Linked DNA regions of Homo sapiens. The protein of the gene in region 1 purifies or fractionates together with the protein of each later gene. This does not show direct contact. Each region holds a gene or a part of one and is shown in the gene's direction. Other genes may lie near its edges. The genes, in order: ARMC9, NPLOC4, EIF4B, ANKRD22, CEP290, PRDX4 and KRT9.

Evidence for each region.
Region 2: the proteins of ARMC9 (region 1) and NPLOC4 fractionate together in Homo sapiens (co-fractionation; one large-scale study listed by BioGRID). This does not show direct contact.
Region 3: the proteins of ARMC9 (region 1) and EIF4B purify together in Homo sapiens (co-immunoprecipitation; one large-scale study listed by IntAct). This does not show direct contact.
Region 4: the proteins of ARMC9 (region 1) and ANKRD22 purify together in Homo sapiens (co-immunoprecipitation; one large-scale study listed by IntAct). This does not show direct contact.
Region 5: the proteins of ARMC9 (region 1) and CEP290 purify together in Homo sapiens (co-immunoprecipitation; one large-scale study listed by IntAct). This does not show direct contact.
Region 6: the proteins of ARMC9 (region 1) and PRDX4 purify together in Homo sapiens (co-immunoprecipitation; one large-scale study listed by IntAct). This does not show direct contact.
Region 7: the proteins of ARMC9 (region 1) and KRT9 purify together in Homo sapiens (co-immunoprecipitation; one large-scale study listed by IntAct). This does not show direct contact.

The regions. Positions count from the first base shown.
Region 1 is NC_000002.12:231,201,631-231,205,130, forward strand, and holds part of ARMC9 (lisH domain-containing protein ARMC9), read left to right. Parts: intron 1-3,500. UniProt on the Homo sapiens protein: Involved in ciliogenesis. It is required for appropriate acetylation and polyglutamylation of ciliary microtubules, and regulation of cilium length. Acts as a positive regulator of hedgehog (Hh)signaling.
Region 2 is NC_000017.11:81,567,613-81,571,112, reverse strand, and holds part of NPLOC4 (nuclear protein localization protein 4 homolog), read left to right. Parts: intron 1-2,001; coding exon 2,002-2,097; intron 2,098-3,500. UniProt on the Homo sapiens protein: The ternary complex containing UFD1, VCP and NPLOC4 binds ubiquitinated proteins and is necessary for the export of misfolded proteins from the ER to the cytoplasm, where they are degraded by the proteasome.
Region 3 is NC_000012.12:53,037,456-53,040,085, forward strand, and holds part of EIF4B (eukaryotic translation initiation factor 4B), read left to right. Parts: coding exon 1-167; intron 168-900; coding exon 901-956; intron 957-1,782; coding exon 1,783-1,888; intron 1,889-2,174; coding exon 2,175-2,247; intron 2,248-2,630. UniProt on the Homo sapiens protein: Required for the binding of mRNA to ribosomes. Functions in close association with EIF4-F and EIF4-A. Binds near the 5'-terminal cap of mRNA in presence of EIF-4F and ATP.
Region 4 is NC_000010.11:88,820,845-88,824,344, reverse strand, and holds part of ANKRD22 (ankyrin repeat domain-containing protein 22), read left to right. Parts: intron 1-966; coding exon 967-1,065; intron 1,066-1,326; coding exon 1,327-1,404; 3' UTR 1,405-3,500.
Region 5 is NC_000012.12:88,132,089-88,135,588, reverse strand, and holds part of CEP290 (centrosomal protein of 290 kDa), read left to right. Parts: intron 1-3,500. UniProt on the Homo sapiens protein: Involved in early and late steps in cilia formation. Its association with CCP110 is required for inhibition of primary cilia formation by CCP110.
Region 6 is NC_000023.11:23,673,993-23,677,492, forward strand, and holds part of PRDX4 (peroxiredoxin-4 precursor), read left to right. Parts: intron 1-997; coding exon 998-1,114; intron 1,115-3,500. UniProt on the Homo sapiens protein: Thiol-specific peroxidase that catalyzes the reduction of hydrogen peroxide and organic hydroperoxides to water and alcohols, respectively.
Region 7 is NC_000017.11:41,569,260-41,573,457, reverse strand, and holds the start of KRT9 (keratin, type I cytoskeletal 9), read left to right. Parts: upstream 1-1,398; 5' UTR 1,399-1,465; coding exon 1,466-2,107; intron 2,108-3,237; coding exon 3,238-3,320; intron 3,321-3,442; coding exon 3,443-3,599; intron 3,600-3,870; coding exon 3,871-4,032; intron 4,033-4,198. UniProt on the Homo sapiens protein: May serve an important special function either in the mature palmar and plantar skin tissue or in the morphogenetic program of the formation of these tissues. Plays a role in keratin filament assembly.

The DNA.
Region 1 (3,500 bases):
AGACCCCACTGCTTCCTCACTGCTCTGCAGCCGCCTTATGTGTGTTCCCCTCCCCCATTCTTAACCTGATTAGTTCCAGTGTCCCATCGTGGTTGTACTGTTTTCCCTTTCCTCTCTCTTCTAGAAGAACCTCTCACATTGGTTAACCTAACTCAGATAGCTGAAAGTGCCTGGAGAAGAGCTGCAAAACTGTGCAGACTGATTCCATTTTAGATTCAAGTGCAGAGATCTTAAATGGACTATAATACCAGCAACCCTGCCATGTTGCTGTAGTCGCTTTGGTTCCCACCCTCCCTTCCGTTCCCACTCTCCCTTCTCTTCGAACTGTCACCATGCTTCTTACTTGCAGCCGATGACCTTTTTTCTTTCTTTCTTTTTTTTTTTTTTTTGACAGAGTCTCACTCTGTTGCCCAGGATGGAGTGCAATGGCACGATCTCGGCTCATTGCAACCTCCACTTCCTGGGTTCAAGCGATTCTCCTGCCTCAGCTTCCAGAGTAGCTGGGATTACAGGTGCCTGCCACCACACCCGGCTAATTTTTGTATTTTTAGTAGAGATGGGGTTTTACCATGCTGGTCAGGCTGGTCTTGAACTCCCAGCATCAGGCGATCTGCCTGCCTTGGCCTCCCAAAGTGCTGGGATTACAGGCGTGAGCCACCGTGCCCAGCTGATCTTGTTTCTTGTTTCACTTTTTTTTTTTTTTTTTTTTTGAGACAGGGTCTTACTTTGTCACCTAGGCTGGAGTGCCATGGCGTGATCCCGGCTCACTACAGCCTTGACCTTCCTGGTTCAAGTGATCCTCCTGTCTCATCCTCCCCAGTAGCTGGGATTACAGGCACACACCACCACACCCAGCTAATTTTTGTATTTCTGTAGAGATGAGGTTTCACCACGTTGCCCAGGCTGGTCTCGAACTCATGAGCTCAAGTGATCTGCCTGCCTTGGTGTCCCAAAGTGCCAAGATTACAGGTGTGAGCCACTGCACCCAGCCTGTTTCACTTCTAATCACTAAATCTGTGTCTTTGCTCAGCACCCATATTCTCTGCTATCCCTCTGAATGCCGTTCCTGCTTCTCCCTTAAACTCCAGGCTCATATATCTGTAAGAATTAAAGAAAGAGGAGAGAAACACGAAGGGTGACTTGACAGTCAACAGGTTTGTTTCCTGGGTAACGGCCAAACTTCACCCTCTTACAATGGGCCTCAGTATAACAGTGGGCCTTAATAAGGACATTCTGTTCCCTTCAGGTGCACTAAGGGAAGCTAAAAGCAGACTTGGGGGGTATGCCTGCAGCTGCAGAAAGTTGTATAGGAACAGACACACAACTCTCCCTCCCAGATAAGCACAACAGAGAGACACAGAAACAGTTCAAGCCTTTGATAAACTCTCCCACCCTGAATCCTTAAAAACTCTTAGTCTGTAGGAGAGTGTGGCTCTGACCTAACTCGGTCGGAAGTCCCTCCCAGGTTTGAAATAAACCTGTTGACTGTCGAGCCACCCTTCGTGTTTCTCTCCTCTCTCCTCTTTCTTTGGTTCTTACAATACCCACTGACCATTTCGGAACCTCCACTGGAATGTCTAACAGGCAGCTCAGACTTATAGCCAAAACAGAGCTCTTGGTTTGACCTCAAAACAGTCCTTCCCCAGGTTTTCGTTGACTCAGCAAATCACATACTCTTCGGCCAGCTGCTCAGATCCCAGGGTTCTTCCTTCCCTTCTTCCCCTCATGTCCCACAACTAACTGGTCTGCAGATTGTGCCTCTTCTGCCTTTTCCATCTGGACTCACAGCGCTCATGGCCCCTCTTGCTTATCCAAATGATGCTCATGGCTGGCGTGGCCTGAGCAGTACTCATCTCCCTCTTCCCACTCCCCTCCAGTCTTCTCTGTAGAGCAGGCAACATGCATATTAAAAAATGGACATCAGCAGCCGGGCGTGGTGGCTCACCCCTGTAATCCCAGCACTTTGGGAGGCAGAGGAGGGAGGATTGAGCCCAGGAGTTCAAGACCAGCCTGAGCAATGGTGAAATCCTGTCTCTGAAAAAACCAAGGCTGGGCGTGGTGGCTCATGCCTGTAATCCCAGCACTTTGGGAGGCCGAGGCAGGTGGATCACCTGAGGTCAGGAGTTCGAGACCAGCCTGGCCAACGTGGTAAAACCCCGTCTCTACTAAAAATACAAAAATTAGCTAGGCATGGTGGCGGGTGCCTGTAATCCCAGCTACTCGGGAGGCTGAAGCAGGAGAATTGCTGGAACCCCGGAGGTGGAGGTTGCAGTGAGCCAAGATTGTGCCATTCTACTCCAGCCCAAGCAACAACAGCGAGACTCTGTCTCAAAAACAAACAAACAAAAAAAAACCTCACCAAAAACCAAACAAATGAAAAAACCAGAAAACAAAAGACTTGGGGCATAGTGGCACACTCTGTAGGCCCAGCTACTCAGGAGGCTGAGGTGGGAGGACTGCTTGAGTCCAGGAGTTTGAGGCTGCAGTGAGCTATGATCATGTCACTGCACTCTAGCCTGGGCAACAGAGGGAAACTCTGTCTCAGGAAAAAAAAAAAAAAAAAAAAAGGACATCAGTGGTGTCAGTCCCCTCCTCCATACTCTCTCTGAGCCTCCTGTTACTGTCAGCCTAATGTCCAAGCCACTTACCAGCTCTGTAAGGCCCACCTGACCTGGCCCCGGCCCCCCATTGCCTGCTGCTGTCTGCCTCACCCCTAGCTACATCCCAATACCCCAAGACTGCAGAGCTCTTCAGCCTGAGGCCTGTGCACTAACAAAGCCATCTTCCCCAGATCCAGGTGCTCAATCTTTGCTGAAATGTCACATTCCCAGTGAGGCCATCAACCACTCTATCTAAAATAACCCCATACCCGTCTCCTTCAGGTTCTGTCCCTTTCCTTGCGCTGTTTTCTTCATGTCTGGAATCAATTTCCACTCCGTCCATGTTTTTGAGCCTGTACTGTGTGCCAGGCACTGGTCTAGGCACAGGGGAACACCTGTCAGGTGCTGTTGAGAAAAATCAAGCAGTACAAAGGGCTGAGAAGTGATGGGCCGACCTCTTAGAAAGGGTGGTCAGGGCAAGACTCTCTGAGGAGGTGACAGTTAGGCAGAGACCTGAATGAGACGTATCTGAAGGAAGGGCAGTGAGCCAGAGTTCACGAGGGCAGGCGTGTGCTTTGGGTGTTCAGTGGGTGTCCACAGGAACCACACAGTGGCCAGTGTGGCTCAGGTTTACAGAACAAATGGGAGTGTGTCAGAGGCCAAGTTGTCTAGGGCTTTGGGAGTTGAGCCTAAGGAGCCTGGCCTTCATCTGGAGGGCGCTGGAACCACAGGAGGGTCCCAAGCAGGAGGGGAATGCTCACTTGTTAAAAGTGTAGAAATTGGATTGAAGTGGAGAGAAAGGAGGTGGGGAGGCAGTGGCAGAAAAATGTAAGGTTACAGACTCAGAAGAGATCTGACTGAGTGTGGTGGCTCACGCCTATAATCCCAGCATTTTGGGAG
Region 2 (3,500 bases), on another chromosome or scaffold:
GAGAACATATTTATTACCTAGGCCGTGAAGGCATCTGGTTTTTAGACTACCTAGGGTGTAATTAAGATGAAAACAGATTGATGGAGCATGCACCCAGGAGGAGCAGGCATGATTTAAAACCAGCTTTCTCAGGTCTTCTACCCCAAGCAGCCTCCCCACTTCTTTCCTCTTCTTTTATAAAGGAAGTTAAGTTTTTGCCTTAGTGCAGTTTTTCAGAAGTACTTGTTTGTGGGAGAGCATTCTGCTCTGTGATGCCCAGGCTCCTTGACCCTGTGGAAGTGAGGCATGGGGAGTCCTTGAGAGCAGGTGCCCAGAGAGGTGTGTCAAGCTCCATGCCCAGCCCTGGGCCACAGGCGCTGGCCTCAGCCAAGGTTCTTAAACCTTGGGATGGGATGGCTGGGCAGGCAGGAAAAGGCACCAGCCAGTGTTACTGGGGTTTCTTTGTGGGTTCTGGGGGCATCATCTGGCTGATAGACGATGGGTAGGGTAGGGAAATGGCTTCAGTGTAAGATGGGAGCTGATGCCCTTCCTTGGGACATCTGGGATGGGCTGTGTGGACTTTGGTTCTGTTCCCCTCCAAGGGCCAGTTACAAGGCCAGCAAGAGCCCCCGTCAGTCCCACTAGCTCACTCACTAGCACGTGTTCTGGGGGTGCCGCCTTCTTCATTTCTAGGCCTTCCCAAGGGACGCGCCTGAGCAGGCCAGGCTTTTGTCTCTGCAGGAGGTCAGCACCTCCCCTGTCTTCAGCTGGGACCCAGCACTGTGTGTACCAACACTATGTGTACCAGCCCCGTGCTGGGCACCCAGGAGGCGAGTACTCCGATCATCTTCATCCTGAGGAAGAGTAAAGTGAGGCCCAGGATCCCTAACTGACGAGGCCATGTAGCCGACACGTGGCACCGCGGCCCGAGTCTTCATGACCCACCCCGCCGCTTGCCCATGAAGGGCCAGCTCAGGCCAGAGATGCTGCTGGTGGCTCAGCTGTCCTTCCACAGCGGCTGGCGCTGGCACAGCAAATCCTGGGCCAGCTAGCTCAACAACTCACTGCCTTTGCTGATGCAGAAAACAGACCAGAACCACACTCATTCTTTAGAAATAGTCCCAAAGGAACCAGAATAGTTCCCCTAAATCTGGAAGAGGTGTGACCTCTGCTGCTGCTGTTGTGTTGCAGAGAAAAGCAGCATCAACTCAACTCGGTGCTGCTTTGGGGAGGGGTGTCTGTCACGAAGAATAAAAGTGGTATTTCTATTGATTCTTGCACATTTACCACTGTCCCTGTAGCATCTATTGATTATATCTTAGGTGCAAAGTGCCCTCTGTTGTCATTAAGGCCTGTCTGAGCCAGTGAAGGACTGAAGGACTTAGCTGGCCTTTGGGTATCAGCTCTGAGGGAGAGAGAAGAGCTGAACCCTGTGTTCCTCAAGGGCCTTACATTCACCCCTGCCTGGAAAAGCCCACAGCTCCGTGGAGTGGCTCCCAGCATTCAGAAGGGGCTTAGTGAGCTGCTGAAGGGTGCTTTGTGTCTTGAAAGCTGGCTGATTGCTCATTTGCCCTCCGAATCCAATGACACGAATCTCTCTTGAGCAAAGTCAGCTCCTGGGGCGGCCTCCTGGCCCTTCCGTTCCTTTCCTGTCACCTGGCCAAGGGGCCAAACCAGCCTTTCGTTCCTCCATAGCAGAGGGAGAGAACCTGTGTGACTCTGAAGGGAAGCTGTGCCACGAGGGGAGTCCCAGTGCCCTTTTTGTCCGACGTCGAGGCCGGTGCACAGGCCGGAGGCTGCCCGGATATGGTGTAGTTTGTCTCCAGGATGGCGGAGTTTCCAAGTGTTCGTTTAGAGATGACACTAATAGATAACGGTTCCCTTTGATGGAGAGCTTGTAGAACATTCTCAGAATTGCTAGGAGTCGTTAATTTGGGCTCTGGGAGATGCTCTGGGCTGGCTGGGAGTCGGCCACACCATTTTCAGCCTCATTTATCATGGGTTTGTGTTTTTCTTCATTAGATCACAACAACTTTCCCCAAGGATCCAGTTTACACTTTTTCTATTTCGCAAAATCCATTTCCTATTGAAAACCGGGATGTATTGGGTGAGACACAGGTGAGCTCTTTGTCTTTAGAAACATAATTTAAGGTAACTGCTGATTGTTATCTAGTGTCAGTATTGTTTTTCCAGAAAACATCAAGCTTTCAAATGCTCCCGATTCATTCTTGTGACAGGCCAGCTAGGGCCTACTGTGGGGCACTGCTGGTCACGTGGACGCCCTTCCCATGGCTAGGTGATGGACGGCCACAAAGGCTAATCCCCTGACGTCCTGACTGGCCACATCTTCAGTGGACCTCGTAATTTTCCCAAATGTGTTGCTTTGTGTCTTCTGCCAGCAGCCTCGTCACTGTTGGTTTGGCCTGGCCCCTGCCTGGTCACCTGCTGCCCTTCTTAGGCACCTTGGGGCTGTGTGGCCCCTCTCGGCCTGGCCTCGGCTTTCCCGTGTGTAGTGTTGATCTGCTGCTTAGCGTGGCTCCCGTGTTGGCCTCTGCTCTCACTGGCAGATCAGGCCAGGTCCGATTTGCTGTCACGCCTGCATACTGTGTAGACAGGCTGTGTACACATGGTTGTTCTTAAATCATAACTTGCTAACAGACATTTCAGAAGGTGGTCAAAGAATGTCTATAATGAGGTTTTCTTCAGTGGCTGACAAAGCTTCTTCTATGCTTTGATCCCCTCAGTGCCCATCCGCCCAGGGGACTTGGGGTGCTCACAGAGGTGCAAAGCCAGTTATTGGGGTGCACTCTTGAAGCTCTGTGTTTGGTTCTGCTGAAGATGTCCGTGCTGCATCACGGCTGCCCTGCACATTCCTCCCTCTTGCTGCCCTAGATGGAGAATACAGCTCGACAGGAAAAGTCAGACCTGTCTCCCTGCCGTGAAGGGGGCCCCAGGCCCCTCCCGCAGCCCACTCTCCACCGGGGGACCAGGGCGCATTTCCATGTTTGTGTCTCTGTCTGAGTCAGCCTTTTTTTTTTTTTTTTTTTTTTTTTGGAAGACAGAGTCTCACTCTATCACCCAGGCTGGAGTGCAGTGGTGCGATCTTGGCTCACTACAACCTCCACCTCCTGGGTTCAAGCGATTCTTCTGCTTCAGCCTCCTGAGTAGCTGGGATTATAGGTGCGCGCCACCAAGCCTGGGTAATTTTTTTTGTATTTTTAGTAGAGACGGGGTTTCGCCATGTTGGCCAGACTGGTCTCGAACTCCTGACCACCTGCCTGCCTCGGCCTCCTAAAAAGTGCTGGAATTACTGTGTTAGCCTCCACACCTGGCCAGTCTGAGTCAGCTTTATAAGCATGTCTCCTTGCACATCTGGGTAGTCAGGTGTGCTGAGAGCATCTTCTTGGGAGAAGAGAGCAAGAGCTTGCTTTGCAGCTGCCTGCTCCTCTTTCTTGGACCCTGTTCGTGGTTGCAGAGGCAGAGGGAGAGGTGTCTCAGCATTCAGTGTATTGAGTTGCGTC
Region 3 (2,630 bases), on another chromosome or scaffold:
AATAAGGAGGAAGATTGCCACTCTCCAACTTCTAAACCTCCCAAACCTGATCAGCCCCTAAAGGTAATGCCAGCCCCTCCACCAAAGGAGAATGCTTGGGTGAAGCGAAGTTCTAACCCTCCTGCTCGATCTCAGAGCTCAGACACAGAGCAGCAGTCCCCTACAAGGTGAGTCAGTTTGGAAACAGTAGTTGGTTAACTGCAGATTCTAAAATACTGTGATGTAATGATGGAAGATCTCCTACGGGATGCCAGCGTTGTATAGCACCTTATAAGTTATGCTGGCTTTAGTCTCTTAGTGTGCTGGAACTGGCTCATAAGACCTAGTTGTTCCATTTTCTGGAGTTCCACCACTTTGATAGCTTGAAATCAGCTATGATGGGAGTACTAATGCCGCACAAATCTGCAAATACTGTAAGTCAGAGGCTTCCCTTTTGCCACATATTGGCAGTATGGTAGGGGGTAACTTCCTTTCATTTCTCTTAAGTCTTCTCATTTGTAAGCAAAATAGCAACACTATTAGCCTGGCGTGGTGGCAGGTACCTGTAATCCCAGCTACTCGGGAGGCTGAGGCAGGAGAATTGCTTGAACCTGAGAGCGGAGGTTGCAGTGAGCCGAGATGTGCCATTGCACTCCAGCCTGGGCGACAGAGTTAAGACTCCAAAAGAAAAGAAAATAGCAATACTAATCCTGCATGATGTGATGATTAGAAAGCATATGGCACTTTAGTGTTCAAATTACTGCTTTCATTGTAATCTTTCCCATATTTTAATGTTCCATAACATTGAGTATGATTTTGTTTTCTATAAAGCTTACCCACTGCATTTGGAGGATGATTATGTTTCTTGGTTGTTTTCTCCCTGAAACAACTGATGAATGTGATTACCTGTTTTCCTTCTAGTGGTGGGGGAAAAGTAGCTCCAGCTCAACCATCTGAGGAAGGACCAGGAAGGAAAGGTGAGCTCATAGTATGGGAAATAGGTTTTTCACCTAGAAGCCTAAATAAAAAGGCCTCCAAAATTAGATTTTGAAGAGCAGTGTGTCTCGCACCTGATACCGTGTTAAGAGTTCTTGGGTTGGCCAGGCGCAGGGGCTCACACCTGTAATCCCAGCACTTTGGGAGGCCAAGGCGGGCAGATCACAGGGCAGGAGTTTGAGACCAGCCTTACCAACATGGTGAAACCCCGTCTCTATTAAAAATACAAAAAAAATTAGCCGGGTGTGGTGGCACATGCCTGTAATCCCAGCTACTCGGGAGACGCTGAGGCAGGAGAATTGCTTGAACCCGGGAGACGGAGGTTGCAGTAAGCCAAGATGGCCCCACTGCACTCCAGCCTGGGCGACAGAGCAAGACTCTGTCTCAAAAAAAAAAGAATTATTGGGTTATCTACCTTTTCTTGCCAGTAGAGGGAGGAGTGGCCTCTTTGGAGAAAGTATGAAACCCTGCCCTTTCCTGGTAGAACATTTCTTTGACGGGGAGAAAAAAATCGGAAGGAAATTAACCAAGGTCACTACAGAGCGTCATAATCTTTATTTCCAGCTTGCTTTTCATGATGGCATATCCCTACATGGAACTTTTTAGTGGATTTTGTTTGTTTTTTGTATTTTTGTGTGCTGTAGAGGATGTGGAAAGAAGGGCTTCAGGAAGGAAGTCTGGGTTGGGGTGAGGTTAGTTTCCCTCAGTACATGTGGGCACAATTTTCTTCAGCTTAAGGGAAATCTTAGGAGAGGGACATTGATACTTTTACTTGCCTTTAATTTGTTTACATTACTGCCCAAGCAGATGAAAATAAAGTAGATGGGATGAATGCCCCAAAAGGCCAAACTGGGAACTCTAGCCGTGGTCCAGGCGACGGAGGGAACAGAGACCACTGGAAGGAGTCAGATAGGTATGCTTGTTCTCTTTCTCATCTTTCCTCTGATCCACATGTTTGTGTAATTAAGAAATTAAGTTCTTGGTTCTCAGAGCACTGCCAGATCGCTCATTGTGAGCAAACTAAAGTCAGCCAACGTAGACAGTTAAGATTCTGAAAATCTAGAAGTAATACATCATCCAGACAACAAGGACTGTTGACTAGAGGTGCCTGTTCAGTGCCTTGAAACTGCATGCATACACATGTTTGTATTAGGCGAGTCCTTTCCTAAAGACATGGTTTTATGCTTACGTCTCTGCAGGAAAGATGGCAAAAAGGATCAAGACTCCAGATCTGCACCTGAGCCAAAGAAACCTGAGGAAAATCCAGCTTCCGTAAGTGTTGAAGGCTGCTCCCAATTTTTCATTCTAAGAAAAATTCTTAGAATTCTAAGTATTCTTACTAAGAATTAAAAATTCTTAGTATTCTAAACTTTTTGCCGTTGGACTTCTTTCCATTTGGAATACAAAGTGTTTGGAAATAAGACATTGGTCTTTACTGAAATAGCGAAAGAAGTTTAGCTTTTTCCTGGTTTCTGTCTTCCTTTGTTCTCATCCCTTCTGCAAGGTGTAGAGGTGGTATGAGACTATAGTAAGATCGCATGTGCCTCTGACCCTCTTCCCTAGCTCCTCTCCAATGGACAATGCTGATGAGCAAGCAAGTGGGTGTCATCTGACTGTCATCCCCCATTGCCAAAGGATCAGTATCCTGTGTCTTG
Region 4 (3,500 bases), on another chromosome or scaffold:
GGTACTATTTCTTCACTCACCAGCACCATGGTTGCTTGGCTACTTTTCCAAAGGCCAAATTTTGGACACTAATGCCCTAGCTATAATTTTTTTGACCTGTAGTGTTTTAAATTAGTACCAACAGAGTAGATGCACTAGCTTATAACACATAATATAAGCTATAACAAATCACGTTTGGGAAATGTCTCTGTAGAACTGCACTGATCTTGCAGGTGTCCTGCAGCAAGAGCACCCGACTTCTTCAGTAGGAATCATCACCAAAACCATAGAGGATAATGTTTATGTAAAGGGCCATGTGGAGACTCTTTAAGGGAAAGATGGTGACATGATCAAGGTGATGATCACCGAGGCATATAGCATGCGACAAAGAAACTTTGGCACAATTCAGCATCAGCTTTTTTAAGTTGCATTCTTTAGAACAGAAAATGGAAAACAAAAAGGCAGAGATTGATGGCTTATATGACACTAACATACATATACATTGAGACAGAGAAGAAATTTTTTTTTTTTTTTTTTTGAGACGGAGTCTCGCTCTGTCGCCCAGGCTGGAGCGCAGTGGCGCAATCTCGGCTCACTGCAAGCTCCGCCTCCCGGGTTCGAGCCATTCTCCTGCCTCAGCCTCCGGAGTAGCTGGGACTACAGGCACCCGCCACCGCGCCCGGCTAATTTTTTGTATCTTTTAGTAGAGACAGGGTTTCACCGTGTTAGCCAGGACGGTCTCGATCCTCTGACCTCGTGATCCGCCCGCCTCGGCCTCCCAAAGTGCTGGGATTACAGGCGTGAGCCACCGCGCCCGGCGAAAAATTTTTTAAGTACTAGAAATAGTTGTCTATCAATGGTTTGCAGACTATTTTTCTGCTTAGTTGTATACTACAAAGTGTGAAAAGGATTTGCCAATGAAGCCACATGCTATGGTCTGTGGAGGGCCCGACTTATGAGCTGAAGTTTTGGCCCTTTGTGTTTCAGTATGGCTGTACCGCATTACATTATGCCTGTGAAATGAAAAACCAGTCTCTTATCCCTCTGCTCTTGGAAGCCCGTGCAGACCCCACAATAAAGAATAAGGTAAGGGAGGGTGGACCGTGGTCTGAGGTTCCTCTAGCAGCAGCATCTTCTAATCTAGGCCTTATGTTGAAGTAAATTATTTGCCTCTGACGTAAACAACAGTAAAATTAATCATCCTCATTAAGGAATGAAGTTATCCTATTACTATTAGGACTGATTGCCTTTTAAAGCCCTTGCCAACACAGAGAGTCAATTGGTCTAAGCTACGTACGAGATCTTGGGCACTCTATTGGAAATAACTGTATATTTTTCCCCCCTCAGCATGGTGAGAGCTCACTGGATATTGCACGGAGATTAAAATTTTCCCAGATTGAATTAATGCTAAGGAAAGCATTGTAATCCTTGTGACCACACCGATGGAGATACAGAAAAAGTTAACGACTGGATTCTATCTTCATTTTAGACTTTTGGTCTGTGGGCCATTTAACCTGGATGCCACCATTTTATGGGGATAATGATGCTTACCATGGTTAATGTTTTGGAAGAGCTTTTTATTTATAGCATTGTTTACTCAGTCAAGTTCACCATGGCCGTAATCCTTCTAAGGGAAACACTAAAGTTGTTGTAGTCTCCACTTCAGTCAGAAACTGATGTTTCAGCTAGGCACAGTGGTACATGCCTGTAATCCCAGCTACTTGGGAGGCTGAGGTGGGAGGATCACTTGAACTCAGGAGTTTGAGAGCAGCCAGGGCAACACAGCGAGACCCTGTCTCAAAAAAAAAAAAAAAAAAAAAAGCCCTGGTGTTCCAAACTCAGTCTTTCCTGAAGAAGAGGATCTGAGTTATCTTCTGAAACAGCGTTCTCCCTTCCCAGTTGTATCACTCTTATAAAAAGACTGTCCAGTCTATGTCATGCCCTAGGAGACAAACTGTTCCTCCCAGCCCCCTTTGAGTATTGAGCAGAAGAATCAAATTATTAAATACGTATGTTTGTACAGAATGGTATTTGTGTATGTGTGTGGGCTTAGAGATTCACAAGTAAATATTCCTTTGGTGAAGGAATTTCAATAAAAACATCTATCAAGTGTCAGCGGTGAGTGTGTTTACACCACAGAAATTGGCAAATTGACAAATCAGAGTTTGTTTTTGTTTTTTTGTTTTTTACTTTCCATAAAGTTCGTTTACCAGCATACCACTAGAGATTTCGGTTTACAAATAAAAGCCATCTTGGTTTGAGCAAGACTATGCAACTATGAAAATGTTCGTTTAAAAAAATCTTCATGATCCTTTTGTAAATACAAGGTGGTTGCCAAGCTTGTTAGTTTTGTTTATTTTATTGATAGATGTAAAATATTATTGTAACTTATTTGGATAAAGTTCTTCAAAAGAAACAGAGCTATACAATGAGGTAGGATCTGGATTATTTGTCTAAGTGAGAGATTGCGAATATCAAAATATCTGTCTCACTTCTTCTGTGAATGACACAGAGTAGAAATAAATTCACTTTAAAAATATGACTGAATTTTGAAAATCAAGACTGAATCTCACATAGCTGCAGACAGGAACTAAGCCAGCCTCTTTGTATGTGGTAACAAGTACAGTATAAGAATGAAAGATTTACCATCCTTGAAAGCTCTAATGAAAATCAAATCCAGCAATATATATTCAACTGTGTACAGGATTTAAGAAACTTATTTTATGAAGGAAGTAATAGTGTGTAGATATAGATTCTGAAGTCTTTAAACGTGTCTTAATAAATTAAGATTCACTGGCATTGAGCTGAGCTACCAGGTGACCCTTGGGGACAAAAAACCCACACAAGTGAATTTCACACACCAGTATACCTTCAACAATATACTTTTGACACACACAAACCTTTGATTTGGTTTCAGAGATTTTGCAAAATAGTACCAATGTAATTTACAACTGTCATCTTTGAAATTGTGTAAAAGTGGAATAATTTTCTGAAGAAATAAATCATGGTTTGTCAATGAGTTGCAGAGACTGTCTGACATTAACTTTGTCAAGATTAAAGGATAAAGTATATGACAATTTGTTTCATCATGCTCATGACATTATGCAATTTTCTCCCTAGCTTTTAATTTTTGGAGGCAGAAAATTGAGCCAGAAATTTTTAGTCATTAGGTCTCCTAGCAACAAGCTGTAAACCTTCCAACAAGCTTGGACTAGAATCTAGACACTGAAATGCACATACATGCTTTATGTAATGCAGAATGCATTTATTGGAGAACTCATAAACATCCTATAAAATTTTCTTCCCTGAGATGCAACTATAAAACTTGGCCTTATTCTGAGAATGCTTAACATAGATTTCATCCATACTGTAACACTGATTTTGTTGTTGTTGTCCTTAAAGCAGCTCAGCTTCCTGAGGTAGTGTTATGTCTCTGTGGCAACAAGGTGAAAATGTCTAGCTTATTTTGTCAAAGTCAACAATAATCCACAGACTCCAGACCTCAATATCTGTCCCAATTT
Region 5 (3,500 bases), on another chromosome or scaffold:
AATGTGGTAGAGAAAGTATGGATCGATGCCACTTAAATGTTAGGAAGAAGCTCTTAGAGCATTATCTGTTTAGCTAACTGCAAAACATAGCAGACATGTGGATTTTTTAATAGTCATCAAGGATCTAACTTATAATATACACTGGTAGAATTGCTTAGGGGGATGTCTGTGGTTTTCTGGACTTTTGTTCTTCTATATAGACCTGTATCAGTTGACTTATCATTCATACCACACACCCTTAGCTAATCAGAACTACCTTGTCCATTTATATCTTAGACTATTGTCTTTTTTCATAGTCACACACAGAGAAAACTTGAATATATGGCCTGTGTTCCTTTTTGGCTGCTCAATTCCTTGAGATGAAATATGGGTATGGGTTGCTTTGGCAATTACTTCTTTGCCGTTAACCAGTCATTCAGTTTTATTGAGTCTTTACAGCATACCAGAGGCTGCTAGTTACTAGTGATATAGTGGGCAACTATGTTCTGGTTCTCAAGAATATTCATAGTCAATAATAAGCATAACATAGTGATAATATGATACTTAGGGAGATACATAAGGTCATATTCTGGCATACTCTGGAGAGAGATACCGTAATCAGCCTTGAGGTGCAGGATGTGATCTGTAAACTGAGACCTGAAGTATAGTTAGACTGGTAAGAGGAATGAGGATATATATGGTGGTTAATAAAAGAACATTCTGGGTAGAAGATATAGCATTTGCTAAGACCTAGAGGTAAGAGATGTTATGGAGTATTTAGGAAACTACAGTTATTCATTTTGACTGAAATATAAGTGAAAATAGCTTTCATAGAGTCCTTACTATGTGCCAGGCACTTCATATGCATTAATTCATTATTGCTTATTTGATACTTGTCATATGAGATAGTTGTCATTTCTGCCATGATACAGATGAAGAAATGGAGACACAGAAAGAGTAATTGCCCATGGTTGCACAGCTTATAAATGGTAAAGGTAGGATTTGAAAACAGTCTTACTCAAGAGTCTGTGCTATCTTGCCTTCCCAGTTTTATTTTTTATGATCCTCTGGAGAGATAAGCAAGGGCCAGTTCCTAATGAATTTGGTTCTTTTCCTGAAAGGAGCCAGTGAAGAGTTTTGAGCACAGGATATCATGATCAGATCTATACTTTAAAAGTTTACTGTACTTTGTAGAGAGTGGATTGAAAAGGGCCAAGACTAGTAAGGAAACATTTGTGTTAATTCAGGGAAGTGCTAATGATGGCATTTGCCTGAGAAAGACAAGTGTGAGAGAAGTAGATGTAATTGGATGTGGTGAATGTAATTGGTTGTTGGAGGAGAGGGAGGATGGAGAGTCTGCCTAATTTTGTGGGTTGGGCCACTAAATAGGTAGATAGTGCCATTCATTAAGGAGGAACACAAGAGGAATTTGGAAAGCTTGAGATTATTTCAGTTTTGTAGATGTTGAGTTTGAGGTTCTTCTGGGCATATTCAAAAAGGGTATCTGTGGATATGGAATTCACAAGAGACCCTGTACAGATGATGAGGATTTATGAATCATCAATGTAGACATTATTGAAGCCAGAGAAGTGATTGTAAGGCACGTCTCTGAGAAATGTCTAATAAAGCAATGAAATAGGAAGAGTGCTTCAAGGAAAAGCTCAAGAAAGGAGAAACAGAGTGTGATGTTTGAGAAGACAAGGGAAAAAAACATTAATAGCATTAAATGCTTTAGCATTAAGTTCTTGGCTTCTCTTCTTGTAAAAATTTCCCAATTCAGAACACAGTGGGATTATTAACTTTCAATTGATAATAATAATGATAGGCAAACTTCTAAAATTTGTATTGTAGTTTGCATTTTATTATAAACTTTCTTTAAATTTTTATTTTGAAAAATGTCATATCTTCATAAAGATTGTAAGAAACACACTGTTGGTGTTAATGTAAATTAGTTCAACCATTGTGGGAGACAGTGTGGCAATTCCTCGAAGATCTAGAAGCAGAAATACCACTTGACCCAGCAATCCCATTACTGGGTATATACCCAAAAGAATATAAATCATTTTCTTATAAAGATACTTGCACACATATGTTCATTGCAGCACTATTCACAATAGCAAAGACATGGAATCAACCCAAATGCTCATCAATGATAGACTGGATAATGAAAATGTGGAACATATACATCATAGAATACTATGCAGCCATCAAAAGAGAATGAGAGGTCAAGCGTGGTGACTCATGCCTACAGTCCCAGCACTTTGGGAGGCCGAGGCAGGCAGATCACTTGAGGTCAGGAGTTCAAGACCAGCCTGGCCAGTATGGTGAAACCCCATCTCTACAAAAACAAAACAAAACAAACAAAAATTAACTGGTCATGGTACTGTATGCCTGCAGTCCCAGCTACTTGGGAGGCTGAGGCAGGAGAATGACTTGAACCCAGAAGGCAGAGGTTGCAGTGAGCTGAGATCGCACCACTGGACTCTAGCCTTAGCAACAAAACTAGAGTTTGTCTCAAAAAAAAAAAAAAAAAAAAACCGGAACAAGATCATGTCCTTTGCAGGGACATGGGATGGAGGTGGAAGCCATTATCCTCAGCAAACTCACACAGGAACAGAAAACCAAACACTGCATGTTCTCACTTATAAGTGGGAGCTGAACAATGAGAACACATGGACACATGGTGGGGAACAACACACACTGGGACCCGTCAAGGGGTCGGGGTGGGAGAACATCAGGAAGAATAGCTAATGGATGCTGGGCTTAATATCTAGGTTATGGGTTGATCTGTGCAGCAAGCCACCATTGTACACATTTACCTAAGTAACAAACCTGCACATCTTACACATGTACCCCAGAACTTAAAAGTTGATGGGAAAAAGAAAAACAATAACCACCCACATACCCTTCATATAGATTCACCAGTTCTTAATGTTGTGCCAACTTTGCTTTATCTTTTTGTCAGTATTTTTACACACACATGTATTTCTCTGTCTCTTGTTTGTTCAATCACATTTTTTGCTGAGTCATTTAAGAGCTAATTGCAGATATGATACTTTGCACTTAAATATTTCAGCTTGTCTGTTTGAAAAAGAAAGATGTTCTCCTACAATGAACACAATATAATTGTCATGCTCAGGAATTTTAATATTGATTCAACACCATTATCTAGTCCATAATGAGATTTCTTCTAATGGCCCAATAATATCCTTCAGTCTCCCCACCTCCAATATCCAAAGTTCTGTCAAGGATCACATACTACATTTGGTTCTTTATTATAGACTTTTTAAATATCGTTGTATACCATTGTGATTCTATCGTCTCCTTTAATAAAGAGGAGAACCAGAAAAATGAAAGGTCATAAGAGGAATGAGGTTTGGAGAATAGGTGAAAAAAGGCATCATAATGTTTATAATAATGTTTGCCTGTTCAGAGAAACAAGAATCACAGATAAAGTCACTTATATGTAGATAAGAGAATGCTGTATTACTTTTTGCTATTCTATTCACTGATCATTTTTC
Region 6 (3,500 bases), on another chromosome or scaffold:
GTAGGAAATACATTTTTCGTTGTCAGCCAGTACACAGGCACATATATATACGGTAACATTCCATCTGGATGCACCAGCACAGCCATGCTCCTTAAAATACTGAAAAACCCTCATATCATGTGGTAAATAGCCACTTCCCTTTCCTCACCAACTAGTTAGTCCTCCTGCCTGATCCCTTTCAGAAACCTCCAGAACTAAAGCCAGCTTTGAGTTAAGATTGTTAAATATTTTGAATATCATCACTGTTGAAGACAAACATATATATTTGTATATATAAATATGTGTTTCATAATTTACCCTTAGTATGTATGATAGAGTCTCCTGTTTTCTATTCGATTTCACTTTTTAAAAATATTTTTTAGAACTCAGTTAATTTAAGGAGTCCCTACCACGGTTTGAAAAAATGCCACCCTAGTAATATTCTGTAAACATGGCCTGACAACATGAGGGTATTAAGGTATAAAATCCCTGGCTGCACAGGACTGGTAGACAAGGTGGAAGAGGACCTTATCAAGAAAGGAGGGGTGGGGGTACTGGAAAACATTGCCTCCTCTCCAAAATACACATAGATGCATCTAATTCATAGGGTTGGTATAGGAATATTAAAAAAAAAATAGTGAAATGACATAAAATTTGTATAGATCCTTTGAAAGCTATAAAATACTATATAAATAAAAGGTATTATTAAATAAAAGTAATAAAATGAGGGGTGGCTATTGCTATAAGGGAGAAGGGAACATTGGTTGACTACTGATCTATTAAGTTGTAATAAGAAAGTTTATTGAGATGTAGTTGGGAACTCTGTAATATGTTTCTGTCTTAAATATTTGATTAAATGACAGTCTTTTAGACTACTCCATTTTGAAAAGGTTCAAATATAAAATTGTTCTTAATGTGCATTTTTATTATTAAAGGTATTTGTAAAAATTGTCATTTGAAAGTTTAGGTATATGCTTATTTGGAGAATACTGAATATTTTTTTTTTTTTACCTTTCAGCACATTTGTGTGTCCAACTGAAATTATCGCTTTTGGCGACAGACTTGAAGAATTCAGATCTATAAATACTGAAGTGGTAGCATGCTCTGTTGATTCACAGTTTACCCATTTGGCCTGGTCAGTATCTTACACTTATATTCGTAGAAAAAAAAGAATGGATTTACTCTTAAAGCATGGACAGATAACTCTTGATATGATATAAGAATATAGTCATTTATCAGACAATTCAGGAATAGCTTTATCTAAGAGTAATACATGTAACTACACATTTTCCAGGTTAAAAAAAGAGAGAAGAGTAATATAATCAGCTGCTATAATAAAAATGCTTAAGGATTTTATAGGACATTTCAAAATAAGGGGAAAAGTTAAATGCAATAGATGTGATTTCTATAGCGAAAACCACTGAATTATATGCTTATGATAAATTGGGTTACCATAATCTGGAGGAAAAAAATCTTTAAAATATGCCATTTCTCTGTTACACAGTTATATAGTCAAACTCAGCTTTTACAATTTTGAAGAAACAATACTTTTTAAAAATGAATTTTAAAAAATGTTTAAAAATTCATTAATCATAAAAAGATGTTTTACCTAAATTCGTTATAAAGAATTGCAAATTAAAATGACGAGATGCCAATTTTCCCTGTCTGGTTGGCCAAGATTTAAAAGATTGAAAAAATGTATCCACTGTGGACAAAAATTGAAGAAACGGCACTCACACACAGCTGTTTAGCATTTCTGGAGAGCAGTTGGGCAACATGTCTCAAAATTGGAAATTTACATGTTAATATGAGTTTTTATAGTGTCCACAGTCTTGTGCAGAAAACTTTGTGCACAATAAAGACCATTCAGAATTGGGCTGGGCACAGTGGCTCATGCCTCTAATCCCAGCACTTTGGGAGGCCGAGGCAGGCAGATCACCTGAGGTCGGGAGTTCGAGACCAGCCTGACCAACATGGAGAAACCCCGTCTCTACTAAAAATACAAAATTAGCCAGGCGTGGTAGCAGGTGCCTGTAATCCCAGCAACTCAGGAGGCTGAGGCAGGAGAATCACTTGAACCCAGGAGGTGGAGGTTGCAGTGAGCCGAGGTCACGCCATTGCACTCCAGCCTGGGCAACTGGGCAATGAGAGTGAAACTCCATCTCAAAAAAAAAAAAAAAAAAAAAAAAAAAAAAAGATTCAGAACTATTGGTTTTAAAACATAATATTCAATTTATTAAAGTTACAAATTTGAAACACAAGCTTTTCTCATTTATAATCTGTGTGTGTATAACAAATTTTCATTGCTTGGTGAGCTACAATTTAATTAATTACATTTCCCTAAGAAATTAATTCCCATAAGTATTTTTAAATGCAGTTATATATTTAATATATTTGAATTCCTTAAGTATCTCAATTTTCAGACAAACCTTCCCAAATACTTAAGTAGTTCTAATATGCCAAATTCTCTTAAACATTATAAATAACTTAACATATAAATATGTACTGATTATTTCTTAATGTAAAAATATTAAAATAGCCTGGCATGGTGGCTCACGCCTATAATCCCAGCACTTTGGGAGGTCAAAGCAGGAGAATCATTTCAACCCAGGAGTTCAAGACCAGCCTGGGCAACATAGTGAGACCCCATCTATACAAAAAATAAAAAAAATTAGCCAGGTCTGGTGGTGCATGCCTGTGGTCCCAGCTACTCGGGAGCCTGAGATGGAAGGATGACCTGAGCCTAGGTGGTCGAGGCTGTAGTGAGCCAAGATCATACCACTGCACTTCAGCCTGGGCAATAGAGTGAGATCCTGTCTCAAAAAAAAAAAAAAAATTAAAATATAGGCTTAATTTGCTTCATCATTTCCTTTAAAAAAAGAAAGACAGGGTCTTACTATGTTGCCCAGGCTGGAGTGCAGTGGCACAATCAATCATAGCTCCCTGCAGCCTTGAACTCCTGGGCTCCAACAATCCTTCTACCTCCCCAAATAGTTGGGACTGCAAGCTTGCACCACCATACCTATTTTAATTTTTATTTTTGTAGAGATGGAGTCTTGCCATGTTGCCCGGGCTGTGCTTCATCACTTCTGTAGTAATTATAAATCTTCCGAGGATTAAAATGCATATCCACTAAGGAAAAAGTTATGGCATCCCAAATAATTTGGGATTGCTTTCCCAAGGAAATTTGGGGATACATTCTCAGCCTGATAGGGTTCACATCAACCAGAAATTTCTACTTGGGTGTCAGAACTGGGGCTCCAGATATCTAGAGCAATGTCGTTTTGTTTTCTATCTGCTGTGTCAGTACCCTCCTGTTAGAGCATCAGCCCATGTCTCCTGGTTTCAAGTTACAGAATACAGATTGAGCGTCCCTAACCTGAAATCCACAGTGTTCCAAAATTCAAAATTTGAGTGCTGACATGATGCTCAAAGGAAATGCTTAGTGAAGCATTTCAGAGTTCAGATTAGGGATGTTCAACCAGTAAGTATGCAGATATACCAAAATCGGAAAAAATCCT
Region 7 (4,198 bases), on another chromosome or scaffold:
GCATTTGGGAAGCATTGTATGATTTTCTAGGGGGCCTGGGGGATGGTGGGAGATGGGGCAGGAATGGAAAGATGGGGATGGGCCTAAGTGCCAGGAATGTGGACCTTATCTTGAGGGTGGAGGGAAACTGGTGAAGTGATGTTGTCAGACATGGATTAGAAAGGTCATTCTGGCTGCTGTGCAGGAAGAGTCAGAGGGAATGGGAGAGGCAGGGAGGGCAGTTAGAAGCTCATGGCTAAGGTCTGGGTGAGGGCAGAGTTGACGGGGAGTTAGGGGGCTGAATGATCAGAGGCAGCCGAACATTTTTTGAGCACTTCTCACAAGTCTCTTACTAGGAGATGGACAAACTACTCATATCAACCTTTTTCAAAGGAGGAAACTGAGGCACAGAGTATTTAAGTAACTTATCAAAGTCACACAGCTCATGAGCATGGAGCTGGATGGAGCTCAGGTAGGCACACCGGAGACCAGCGTGTTCTTTACCATTCTCTTCTGGCCTTGGTGACCAGAATATACATCCAAGTTTCTGCCAGGAGCAGGGATAAGTCACACATCTCTGTATCCCCTCCAGAGTTCTGTATGGGGTAGGCACTCAACCAAGGTCAATTCCACACTCCCTGCTGGGCCCTGCAAAAGGACCAGGACAGTCGAGCCACTTGCATTCCTGCTCAGAGGTCAGCTAGTGTCAGCACCACCTTGTTTATTTGGTCCACTTTCTTCTTCCAGCCCTTTGTGTGAACTCTGCACGCTGTCCTTTAGTGCTGGCGGGCATGGTCTCGGTGCCCGTCTCCATCTTTTGGCCATGCCAGTTGCCTCCTCATCAAACTGGAGTCTCCCAAGGGCAGAGCCTCAGACTCTGCAGAAAGCCTCGAGGATCCTGAGAGCAAGGATTGGTTTTCATCCATTTGGGGCTCCACAAGGGCAGGGGCTGTGCCTCCCCCTCCTCTATGATAACTCCTTAGTACCCTAGTTCCAGCTCAGCTCACAGTGGGCACAAGGTGGGAGCAAGGAGGCATGAGGGATGCAGACAGTAATGACCATCAATAGAGGAGGTGACTCTGCTCTTGGGAGTTTCTATCCCGAAGGGGCTAAGTCTCAGACCTGCTGTTGGGGCCAGCCAGAGACCAGACTCCAGGATCTAGGTCACCCCTGTGGCAGTACAGCTGATTTATGGTGGCCCTGACAGCCTAATGTCATCAAATTATCCCACACAATGGAGAGAGGCTGGGCCGCCCCCAGGCAGTCACCAAAGGACGCTGAGCCTGGGGCAGCCCGGCTGCCTCCGTATCCCAGACCTCCCTCGGGTCTGTGGGGGGAGGCTGGCACAGAACAAGGGCACACCCAGGCGTGCCACCTTCAGCTGGGGGTATAAGTAGGCAGCCCCAGGGACAGCTCTGTACCCTGCACTTGGGAGCCGGTAGCACTCCTATCACTGCTTCTCAACCCGTGAGCTACCAGCTGTGTCATGAGCTGCAGACAGTTCTCCTCGTCCTACTTGAGCCGCAGCGGCGGGGGTGGCGGGGGCGGCCTGGGCAGCGGGGGCAGCATAAGGTCTTCCTACAGCCGCTTCAGCTCCTCAGGGGGCGGTGGAGGAGGGGGCCGATTCAGCTCTTCTAGTGGCTATGGTGGGGGAAGCTCTCGTGTCTGTGGGAGGGGAGGCGGTGGCAGTTTTGGCTACAGCTACGGCGGAGGATCTGGGGGTGGTTTTAGTGCCAGTAGTTTAGGCGGTGGCTTTGGGGGTGGTTCCAGAGGTTTTGGTGGTGCTTCTGGAGGAGGCTATAGTAGTTCTGGGGGTTTTGGAGGTGGCTTTGGTGGTGGTTCTGGAGGTGGCTTTGGTGGTGGCTATGGGAGTGGGTTTGGGGGGTTTGGGGGCTTTGGAGGTGGTGCTGGAGGAGGTGATGGTGGTATTCTGACTGCTAATGAGAAGAGCACCATGCAGGAACTCAATTCTCGGCTGGCCTCTTACTTGGATAAGGTGCAGGCTCTAGAGGAGGCCAACAACGACCTGGAGAATAAGATCCAGGATTGGTACGACAAGAAGGGACCTGCTGCTATCCAGAAGAACTACTCCCCTTATTATAACACTATTGATGATCTCAAGGACCAGGTAGGTGCAGGAAACTGTCTCTGTCTTGGTCTCTTTCTCTTTCATTCTTTATCTTCCAAAAAAGTTAAAATGCTAAACTCTAAGCTCAGATAATAGCCAGGGAATCCACCTTTTGGAAATGTACGCTTTCATCAGAAACAAACTTGTGTTTGGTTTCTGGGGATCCCAGGATAGGACTTTGGCCTGTGCTCTGAGTGTTCACTTCCATTTCCTCAACTTTCAGAGTTTGGGCAGAGCAGAGAGGAGACCTGGGTTAACGTGAGCTGAGCTGGGACTGGATGTGGAACCTCCTTTAGGTTTGGTCTAAGTCAATACTTTCTCTTCCTTTGTACTTCTCCTGGGCTTCTTTAGGAGTGTATCTTGATCTTTTAAGGTATTTTGGACCTGACTGTACATGTTGGTTATTCAAGTGTTGGAGAGGATCCAGAAATCTGGGAATGGAAGCTATCTATCCATCCATCCTTCCATCTATCCCTTCCTCCCTCCACCCACATGTCTATCTATCTATCCATTTATTCAGCCACTCAGTTCAGTGAGTGCCTACCCTCAGGGTTGCTCTGGGTAGACATAGTGATGTGCTAGACCTAGTTCTGGTGGAGCTCACGGTCTGGCTCTTCAGTATTCTCAGTGATTCCTCTTGTTTTAACTCCTGCATGTCTCTGAATGTGCTGTTTCTTCTACTCTAAACCTCTTCCATTTATTTATTAATGTTACATCTTAGCCATCCTTCAGGGCCCAATTCAATTGCCAGCCACCTCCTTCCTGAAGTCTTTCTTGATCTCCCATTGCCATAAGCCACCTCTCCTTTCCTTGAACTCTTTTAGGACACTTTTGACTTTGTAGTCAATGGTGGGCTCCCTGAGGAACAGGATGTCAGTAATCTCTAAATCCTACAATGCCCTTTGCAGTAGATCTTCAAATATTTGTTGAATGAATGAATGAAGGCCACACCAAACATCTTCGCTGAAGGCTGGAAGGGGTCTGTGCCATGTCCCAGCTGTTGGAAGTTCCTCATTCCTCTTGAGAATCTTCCTGGATGGAATCCTCACCTCCTGTGGCTTTGCCTGGCCTCTTGCCCTCTCAGCAGTGGTCCACAGCATGATATCATGGCTGTGTCCTTTTTTTTTCAGATTGTGGACCTGACAGTGGGCAACAACAAAACTCTCCTGGACATTGACAACACTCGCATGACACTGGATGACTTCAGGATAAAGTGAGTCCTGCTCCTCTTCTCCTCTCCTGTCATCAGCCCTTACCCCTGAACCTCAGTGCTCTGGAGGTCCTGGTAGGGCCTGGTTCCCTCTTGATTGTTTTCTAACCCTGGCTGGTCTGCAGGTTTGAGATGGAGCAAAACCTGCGGCAAGGAGTGGATGCTGACATCAATGGCCTGCGGCAGGTGCTGGACAATCTGACCATGGAGAAGTCTGACCTGGAGATGCAGTATGAGACTCTGCAGGAGGAGCTGATGGCCCTCAAGAAGAATCATAAGGAGGTAGGTTGCTGGGGCTTATGGCTTACCGGGAAGAGGGAGGAGCAGAAATGCAGAGACAGCAGGGGAGCTTTGGAACATTACCTGGGAGACACCCTCTCCTTTGCTCTTGAGGACACTTTCAACTTCTCCTTGGCATCACCTATGGTAGTGGTTGGGCTTTGGCTTCACAACTGTGTCCCCTTTTTGTACCCTGGGGGGACCAGAGGGAGAATTCTGAAAGGTGGTGCAGAGGACTTTATCCGTGACCTCATCTCCCCTTCTTCCCTGGCAGGAGATGAGTCAGCTGACTGGGCAGAACAGTGGAGATGTCAATGTGGAGATAAACGTTGCTCCTGGCAAAGATCTCACCAAGACCCTCAATGACATGCGTCAGGAGTATGAGCAGCTCATTGCTAAGAACAGAAAGGACATCGAGAATCAATATGAGACTCAGGTGAGCAGAGTGGGCTGCCCATTCATCCTCCTCCCCTCCATCTATTCCTATCTCCATCCCTCCCACCTCCCATTCCTTCATCCTCCTATCTCTGCATCTCTCAGTGCAGCTGTCATTTATCCATCTTCCAATGGAAGTCATTCATCCATCTTCATTCACTGCATAC